2 separate regions of the Homo sapiens genome follow, and region 2 is linked to region 1. Evidence: fine-mapped expression QTL. Tissue or cell type: follicular helper T cells. Region 1 holds a variant in brackets; the other region holds the start of a gene. All regions are shown on one strand. Distances are between the middles of the regions. Region 1 overlaps LOC102723795 (a long non-coding RNA gene). Region 2 holds the start of RNF32-AS1 (RNF32 antisense RNA 1).

What was found. PIP is the estimated chance that this variant, and not a neighbour inherited with it, causes the effect.
Region 2: RNF32-AS1 starts here. The variant in region 1 is the best candidate, but not a certain one, in a credible set for the expression of RNF32-AS1 in follicular helper T cells (Schmiedel 2018, PIP 0.61).

Annotation. Positions count from the first base shown.
Region 1 is chr7:156,898,453-156,902,848 of GRCh38, reverse strand. The region is part of intron 2 of LOC102723795 (a long non-coding RNA gene); the gene reads right to left. Among named protein-coding and RNA genes, the nearest start is that of LMBR1, 7.5 kb to the right of the region's middle. The variant AAG/G (reference allele first, on the strand shown) is at 1,667.
Region 2 is chr7:156,657,739-156,662,134 of GRCh38, reverse strand. RNF32-AS1 (RNF32 antisense RNA 1) reads left to right here and starts at 2,176. Exons shown (of 3, transcript NR_189275.1): 1 at 2,176-4,259. It overlaps RNF32 (ring finger protein 32), which reads right to left. Exons shown (of 9, transcript NM_030936.4): 6 at 3,883-4,007; 7 at 3,565-3,673. RefSeq lists an enhancer at 3,794-4,396.

The DNA of each region.
Region 1 (4,396 bases):
TTATGTGTGGACTTAAATTCCACATGATACCCTGTAATTCTCCTCAAGCTAATTCCAGTTTTGTGTCTACCAATTTCCTCTGATTAGTTCTTGTAAATCTTGATTCATGGATAGGACAGCCACAGAATTTCTTTGCAAAGTAAAGGTCCTGTCTTCCATTTTAAGTATCCTTTTAGTCTTTCATCCCCTGTGTAAAAGTTACAAGTTTGTCATGAATTCCTTAGAAATGTTGGGCCGGGCACGGTGGCTCACACCTGTTATCCCAGCACTTTGGGAGGCCGAGGCCAGCAGATCATGAGGTCAAGAGATCAAGACCATCCTGGCCAACATGGTGAAACCCCGTCTCTACTAAAAATACAAAAAAAAAAAAAATTAGCTGGGCATGCTGGCAGGTGCCTCTAGTCCAAGCTACTCAGGAGGCTGAGACAGGAGAATCACTTGAACCTAGGAGGCGGAGGTTGCAGTGAGCCGAGATCGTGCCACTGCACTCCAGCCTGGCAACAGAGCGAGACTCCATCTCAAAAAAAAAAAATGTTTAAGTATCGCATACATATATAACCCAATTTGTAAATATTAGCATAATCCATGCTTAGATCTTGGTTTTTAGATGATAACAATAATGGTGATGATGACGTTGATACTATTACTAACAGCCAACTTTTACAGTGTCATTGCACTTTGTAGGTTCTGTCATTTATTTATTTATTTATTGAGACATTCTCGCTTTGTCACCCAGGCTGGAATGCAGTGGTGGAAACCCCTTATAAAACCATCCGATCTTGTGAGACTTATTCACTACCACGAGAACTGTATGGGGGACCCCCCTCATGATTCAATTATCCCCCACTGAGTCCCTCCCACAACACATGAGAATAACGGGAGCTATAATTCAAGATGAGATTAGGGTGGGGACACAGCCAAACCGTATCACACCCCTTTCAGAAACCGACAAACATGTGTATGACTAGAAGAACTTCTGATTGGTGTAAAAGTAATCGATGTTTCTGAACTTAATTGTATTTTCATGAATTTAGAACTGTTTTCCTGAGAAAAATTCCTGTTTTCCCTTTAGTAATCCCCTTGATTCGCCTCTGCAGACACGTGGGATGACCAACCACCAGGTGAGAGTCTTGTCCAGTCTCCTCAATTTCCACCTTTTATCATCTGGTTGTTCAACATTAGCCCACAGTGTGAACATCTTCATTTGAGGCTCTTTCTAAAACGGTTGCTGGCTCCCATGGTGTGCTGTAATTACTTAACAACCAGCTCTTCAAGGAGGGGAAGGGGGCCCTGATTTGTTATCATTGACTGATTTCTGTGCTGTAAATACTCCCACTGTGGCCAGTTCTAGCTACCAGATGTACCGATATTGAGGGTGGAGGAGCACACCATTTTACAGCTGACGAAAGCGGCCTCAAGAGTAAAGTATAATAACACAAGCAGGACATGATGGAGTCGGAGCATTTATTACCTTTTAAAAATATAACTTAAGGCTGGGCACGGTGGCTCATGCCTGTAATCCCAGAACTTTGGGAGGCTGAGGTGGGCGGATCACTTGAGGTCAGGAGTTCAAGACCAGCCTGGCCAATATGGTGAAACCCTGTCTCTACCAGTGCACTTCAGCTTGGGCAATAGAGCAAGACTTTGTCTCAAAAAAAAAAAAAAA[AAG/G]AAAAGAAAAGAAAAAAAACAGGCCAGGTGCAGTGGCTCACGCCTGTAATCCCAGCGCTTTCAGGGGCTGAGGCAAGACGACTGCTTGAGTCCAGGAGTTCAAGACCAGCCTGGGCAACATGGCAAAACTCTATCTCTACACGAAATATTTTTTAAAAATTAAAAAAAAGAACAGTGCCTGGCAAATACTAAGTGCTCAGAAATATTTGTTATTTTAACTAAAAGATAAAAGCTTGAAAGGCAGAATGGCCTTAAAAATGGTGGTAAAACAAAAATGTTTGAGAAATGAAAGCTGGCATGACACCAGGCTGGAGTGTAACACATGGAATTTGTATTTCAACCCGTTTCCTTCCAACAAAGTGCAGTTGTGACCCTGTGTGGATGAGTCTCCAGTGGAGAGTGAAGCCAGGATGGTGAGGGGACCCGGGGCAAGGAGTGGGTTCAGAAGCTGGGAAGGCACTAAGTTCTCCTCTAGTGGGAATGGGGAACAAGGGGAAGAATGATGGGCTGGAAGTCAGCAAGTCTGGGTTACCCTGGTCACTAACGTGTGTCTCTTTAGGAAAGTCACTAAATTTCTCTGGGACTTAGTTGCAATAGGGCTAGGAGATCCCCAAGGTCCTTTAGGCTTCACACATGTGTGGTTCCTGACTGCTCCATAGACAGTCTTGCTCCTTCTGTGGCATAAAGAGGTTCAGTTGACCATTTGTTCCTTCTCTCGCCTTGCCCCATTTTGGCTCATTTCCCTCCTAAATTGTGTGTGTTGAAATTGGAAGAAAAAGAGTCAAGATAGATAAGTAAAGCTTAGGAAGATGATGTATGACTGAAGATGATGTATCATGAGCCAATAAAAATGACTGGAATCAAGGCTGGACATGATGACTCACGCCTGTAATCCCGGCACTTTGGGAGGCTGAGGTGGGTGGATCACCCGAGGTCAGGAGTTCAAGACCAGCCTGGCCAACATGGTGAAACTCCGTCTCTACTAAAAATACAAAAATGAGCTGGGCATGGTGGCGCACGCCTGTAATCCTAACTACTTGGGAGGTTGAGGCAGGGGAATCGCTTGAACCCGGGAGGTGGAGGTTGCAGTGAGACGAGATCACGCCACTGTACTCCAGCCTGGGTGACACAGAAAGACTCCATCTCAAAATAAACAAAATGATTGGAATCAATGTCTATTTATGATATTACCTTTAGAAAGTGTGCTAAATCTTCTCTCAGTTTGCTTAAGCTCAAGCAGTACCTTGTATAATTGCCTGGAAGGCGTAATGCAGTGCCCTGAGCGATGCTGAGTAGGTAGTAGCTCCCACAGGTAACAGCTGATGAGTTAGAAGCATGAGAGGCCAACCTCTCCCCAAGCCTATTAAGAAGAGAATAAAAACAGGGGTCCCTACTTGTGATGGTTAACGTTATGTGTCAGCTTCACTGGGCCATGGGATGCCCAGATAGCTGGTCAAACAATATTCTGTGTGTGTCTGTGAGGGTGCTTCTGGAGGAGATTAATGTTTGAATTGGTGGCCTGAGTAAAGCAGATGGCCCTTCCAATGTGGGTGGGCATGATCCAATCAGCTGAAGTCCTCAGCAGAACAGAGAGACTGACCCTCCCCTGAGTAGGGGGAGCTCCTCCTGCTTGAGCTGACACATTGGTCTTTTCTTGCCTTTGGCCTCAGACTCAACTATCAGCTCTTGGATCTTGAGCCTGCTGGCTTTCGAATTAGAACTTATACTTTGGTCTCCAGCTTGCCATCTGCAAATCTTAGGACTTCTCAGCCTCCAGAATCATGTGGGCCAATTCCTCATAATACATCTTTCTCCCACCCTCTCTTTCTACACCTCCACCCCCTAATTAGTCCTATTCCTCTGGAGAGCCTTGATGCACCATTCCCGAAACTTGAGGGGCAGAGAGTGAGCTTGGATTCATTTGTATGCTTGGTTGCATACTCCACTCAAGCACATACTCAAGCACACTCAGGACTACAGAAGAATTCAGTGGGGAAGGGGGGTGGGTTGTCAGGGCAGAATCTCCAACAGAGGGACCTGGATGTTTTACTATGTGTCATGCATGGTGATGCAATTGTTTTTGTTTTATTGCATGGCAGAGAGCAATGGAACTGTGAGAAAAGCAGGTGTTAATAAGTCAATGAATCTAGGTTCAAATCTTGATGTACAAACCAGGTCAGGTTGCTTAACCTTTCTGAGCCTCAATGTCTTCAATGGTAATATGGAGCTGACAGCACCTACTTCACTGGGCCACTGTGATGGTTAAATTAAATACTGCATGGGAAGTGCCTGGAATACAGTAGTTATTCCGCAAAAGCTAGCTCCCCACTACCGCCCCCCCCCCCCATTTACATGTATGACTCTTTATTCAGCAAAGGCTTATCAACCTGTTATCATGTGCCCGGCACTGTGCTTGGTGTTGGAAAAATAGTGAACAGGATAAAGTCTTTGCCATGACTAGGGCAGACAAAAAGCCTACCTATGTGTTAATAACTTTTTTTTTTTTTTTTTGAGATGGAGTCTTGCTCTGTCACCCAGGCTGGAGTGCAGTGGCGCGATCTCGGCTCACTGCAAGCTCCGCCTCCTGGGTTCACACCATTCTCCTGCCTCAGCCTCCTGAGCAGCTGGGACTACAGGCGCCCGCCACTACGCCGGGCTAAATTTTTTTTGTATTTTTATTAGAGACGGGGTTTCACCATGTTAGCTGGGATGGTCTCGATCTCCTGAC
Region 2 (4,396 bases), 240 kb after region 1:
ATATAGGCACCTACTACCTACTGCTAATACACTATTTTACAGTAAGTTCAATCTTCATTTATTTAACATGAGATCTGAGTTTACAGATTTCAAGTGTTTATGGCCAAATGAGTTAAGTGAGCAAGAGTTACATGATAGGATCCCTATTCATGTAACAAATTATGAGTATAACCTCACTATGATCTGAGTGTGTGTGCGTATATGTATACATCTGTTCCTCCCCACCCCCACACTTGAAACTTGAATGAGGTAAGATTACAGTTCAGCAGATAACACGGTCACTTGTATTATGTTTAAGGTGGCAGTTATTGATAATGCAGACTGCTGATATCTACAACCCATCAGTGACCCATAACATTAATGTAGTAGGCCCAGCACTTTGGAAACGAAGTGGAATAAAAATGAACACAGTGTGGTGCCTGCAGTGAAAGCAGATTTTGCTTTGCGAAAGTTACGTTTCTGTTAACTGTATACATGTGGTGGGTCATTGCTGTAAGCTAAAAATAAAATCCTGGCCAGGCCATGGTGGCTCTCACCTGTAATCCCAGCACTTTGGGAGGCCAAGGCAGGCAGATCACCTGAAGCTGGGAGTTCAGGACCTGCCTGGCCAACATGGGGAATCCCTGTGTCTACTAAAAAATACAAAAATTAGCTGGGCATGATGGCGGGTGCCTGTAATCCCAGCTACTCAAGAGGTTGAGATAGGAGAATTGCTTGAACTCGGGAAACGATGGTTGCAGTGAGCCAAGATCGTGCCACTGCACTCCAGCCTGGGCAGCTGAGCGAGACTCCGTCTCAAAAAAAAAAAAAAATCCTAAGGCCCCCAGCAACAGAACGAACCCCCTCTTGGCCAAGGGGGCCCTAGGAAAACCTTAACAATGGAATTTCTGGCCACGATGGGAAGAAAGGTGAGATGCCCCTTATGCCCACTCCTTGCTGGAGTTTAAGCTGAAGTGACCAGTATTCCTTTAAAAGTGATAAGGCTGACGGCAGTCTGAGGCAGTAAGAAACCAAAGTACAAACAAGACCTAAGGCCATGCCCGGCAAGGGACAGTCATGCCGCAGGCCATCAGTCTTGCTGCGCAGCATCCTCAACTTAGAGATTCCCTTCTGCTGACTCCAGTATTTAGATAGAGCCCTACTCCTTTAACCAACTGCAAATAAAGAATCTCTGAATCCACCTACAATCTGTAAACCCCCACTTCAAGATATCACGCCTTTCTGGCCAAACCAATGTATAACTTCCATGTACTGACTGATGTCTTTGCCTGTAACTCCTGCCTCCCTAAAATGTATGAAACCAAACCGTAATCCAACCGCCCGGGGTGCACTTTCTCAGGACTCCTTGAGAGTGGGTTTCCTGGCCTGCAGTCACTCGTATCAGTCAGAGTCAACTTCTTTAAAATACTTTACAGAGTTTGGTTTTTCTGTCAACATTGCTTAGAAGATATTTCTTATTGTGGTTGAGGAAAAGTCTGAAAGCCACTGCCCTAGCCTATGGCTCTTGCCTATAATCCCAGCTAACTGGGAGGCTGAGGTGGGAGGTTCGCTTCAGCCCAGGAATTTGAGGCCAGCCTGGGCAATATAACGAAACCCTGTCTCTAAATAAAAATAAAAAACAACTTATACAGTTTGTTCTCAACTACCACCCCTGCAAAAAATAAAAAATCAGTTTTACTTATCAGTTTCTTCACAGATATTCAGCTTAAGTGAATTTGCTATTGAAATCATCTGAGATCATCTTAAAAGCCCCAAAGGAAAAACCACATTTGTAATATACAAGCTAGAATAGCATTCATACTTCTGTTCTTCTTGATCTCTTAGATGGTGTTGTTTAAACATACAATAGAGGTTTAGAGAAGACCAAAGAAATTGGAAGAAAGCTTCAGCTAGGCTTTGAAAAACTGGCACATTTTAAGCAAGGCAGAGGGAACCAGTAGGAACGGGCAGGACATGCGGGGGCGGGCAAGAGTGTGCTCAGAAAAGCAGACACGGGGATCAGAGCGGGGCGTTCCGAGCGATGAGGGCTCAGGACGAGGAGGCAGCAGTTGGGATGAACCAAGGATAAAACAAAAAACAGTATTTGTGGGGAGGTGGGATGGCCACAGGGCAGCGGACCCAACGTCCAGTGGGACAGAGCTATGAATCTGCCTTGTAAAGTTCCATCTCTCTGTGGGAGACACTGAATTAGAAACTGAGGAACTTGTTTGATCAGGTCTCCCTGCCCCGACTGCTCTTGGTCACTTGCTTTTTGTTATTTTTCGTTTCCTTTTTCCATGAAGCTGAAGGCTGCAGCATTTGAACACCTGAGCACTGAACGCTGAAACTTAACCTTCACTGGCTACTTTACAAGATAACACAAGGCACATTGTAATGGTTGCTTCACTTGTTTCCAGCAACCTGGGCCAGTTCTCGTCCAGTTCAATGGGCTGAGACCACCAACACTTTCAGTGGGCCTTTATCTTCAAGAGTTCTTATAAAATGATGTGTGCACATGAAAAATATTTATATATATAAGGTAAAATGACTATCAAATCTGTAATTAAAATTGTATAAGAGGTGACAAAAAATCACTTCTGATTTAAGAGACAACCTACTATGACATATTAGAAATTACTAAGAGTAGCCCAGAGAACACAACTGACTGTCAACGACTGAAGATAAAAAACTGGAAAGAATGTAAAGGAAGGATGACGCAATCGTGCATGGCGGTCCTTTACCAAATTGAGAATGAACACCCGAGACGAATGATCTCTGAAGATCAGAGACACTGCTCTCAGGAACAGAACACACAGTAACTCATCTCCATATTCTAGGAAAGGAGTTAATAGTGATAATAAATACAGAATTTCCAGCACCTACTGTGTGCTGGGCCATTATAAATGCTACAGCTCTTCTCAGGCCAACACTGCCAGGAAGAAGTGATGGCTTTCATATGACAGCCTCGGAGCTGCTGCTGTTTGCCTGAAGCCACAGGCTGATGGGGTAGGACTGTCCTTTTCATATGGGGACAAGGAATGGGAAATTGTTAAATAAGTCCCCCAAAAGTAAAACTAAAGCATAAATAGTGGTTAAGAGGAAGGGTAGACATGGAAGTTAGCTCTAAAGCTCATTGTGATGACCCCACGAGGTACTCAATACAATGGTAGCATGTGGGGGCTTTATTTTTATAGGCAGCTTCTATTTTCATTACTATGAGATGTGCAGCAGATGTCTTCATTTACATATAGCCCAGGAGATGGGAAAAATTAAGCTGGTTTCCAGTCTTGTGTCTGAAGAGATAAGTTTATTTAAACAATTAGCACAAAATGGCCAAACAGAAGTTGCTTTGATTTAACCTAATTTTATGATTTAACTAGAAAAGAAAGTCTAGAAGTATTTGAACATCTAGGTTGGAAAGCCAACTAAAGTTAAACAGGATTTTTAGCAGCATCTCACCCATTTTTAAAAAGCCCTCAAAGTGAAGTAAGTCTCAAAGTTTTACCACCTCTGTTAGCCTTCCTGACCCCAAGTGAACCACCCGCACGGAGACCATATCTGGAGAACATAATGATCTTTACCTACCTTTTTTTCAAAGAATTTTTTTCTTAACTTGGCATCTGTGGGAGGTACTGTTTTCCTCAGGTTTCTGTACCACTTTCTAACAACACATCCTCTCCAGTAGGCTTGGATTCTAAAACACAGATATTTGAAAATGACTAATTTATGATGACTCTATGTCAACCAATACTTCAGTAGTTGTTATAAGCCCTGTGCTGTACAAGGCCCTGGGGAAATTATGGTGGCCAAGAAGAGAGATAAAATCCCACTATTCAAAAAACAAGTTAGTTGTCATAGCCTGATCTGTGTCTGCTTAGCGCCAAACGGGCCTGGCGTCCTCACCTGGTCACACACTTGATTCTGAACAGGCGGGCCCCATCGTGTATCACTCGGGTTTGATACTGGTTCTTTCTACAGAGAGGACAGGTTTTCTTATTTGTGAACTTTTCAAAAGCCTGAAGACATGCCTGAAGAAAAACATTTCACTTAAAATTTTACAAGTAATTACTTATAAACAACGTTTTTACTTCCAATGTTAGTGTTCTAATTATAGTGTTCTTTTCTCCCATAACTATGAGACTTAGCCCAATTTAGGTTATAAAGTGAGGAGGCTTCATCAGGTGCTACCACCTTCCTCACAAAACCTGTTCCAAAAATGATTTCTTACAAGAATATACATGCAGAGACATCAAAAACTTCTGAAATCCACTAGCACAAAGGTGAGTCACGCGTGTGTATGGGGCCACATGCAGATCGATCATGTGAATTTAGCTGTCACTTTGACATGCATTACTGACAACAATCTGTTACATAAACATTTGTGGTTCTTTTGTCACAAAACTCATGATTTTCAAAA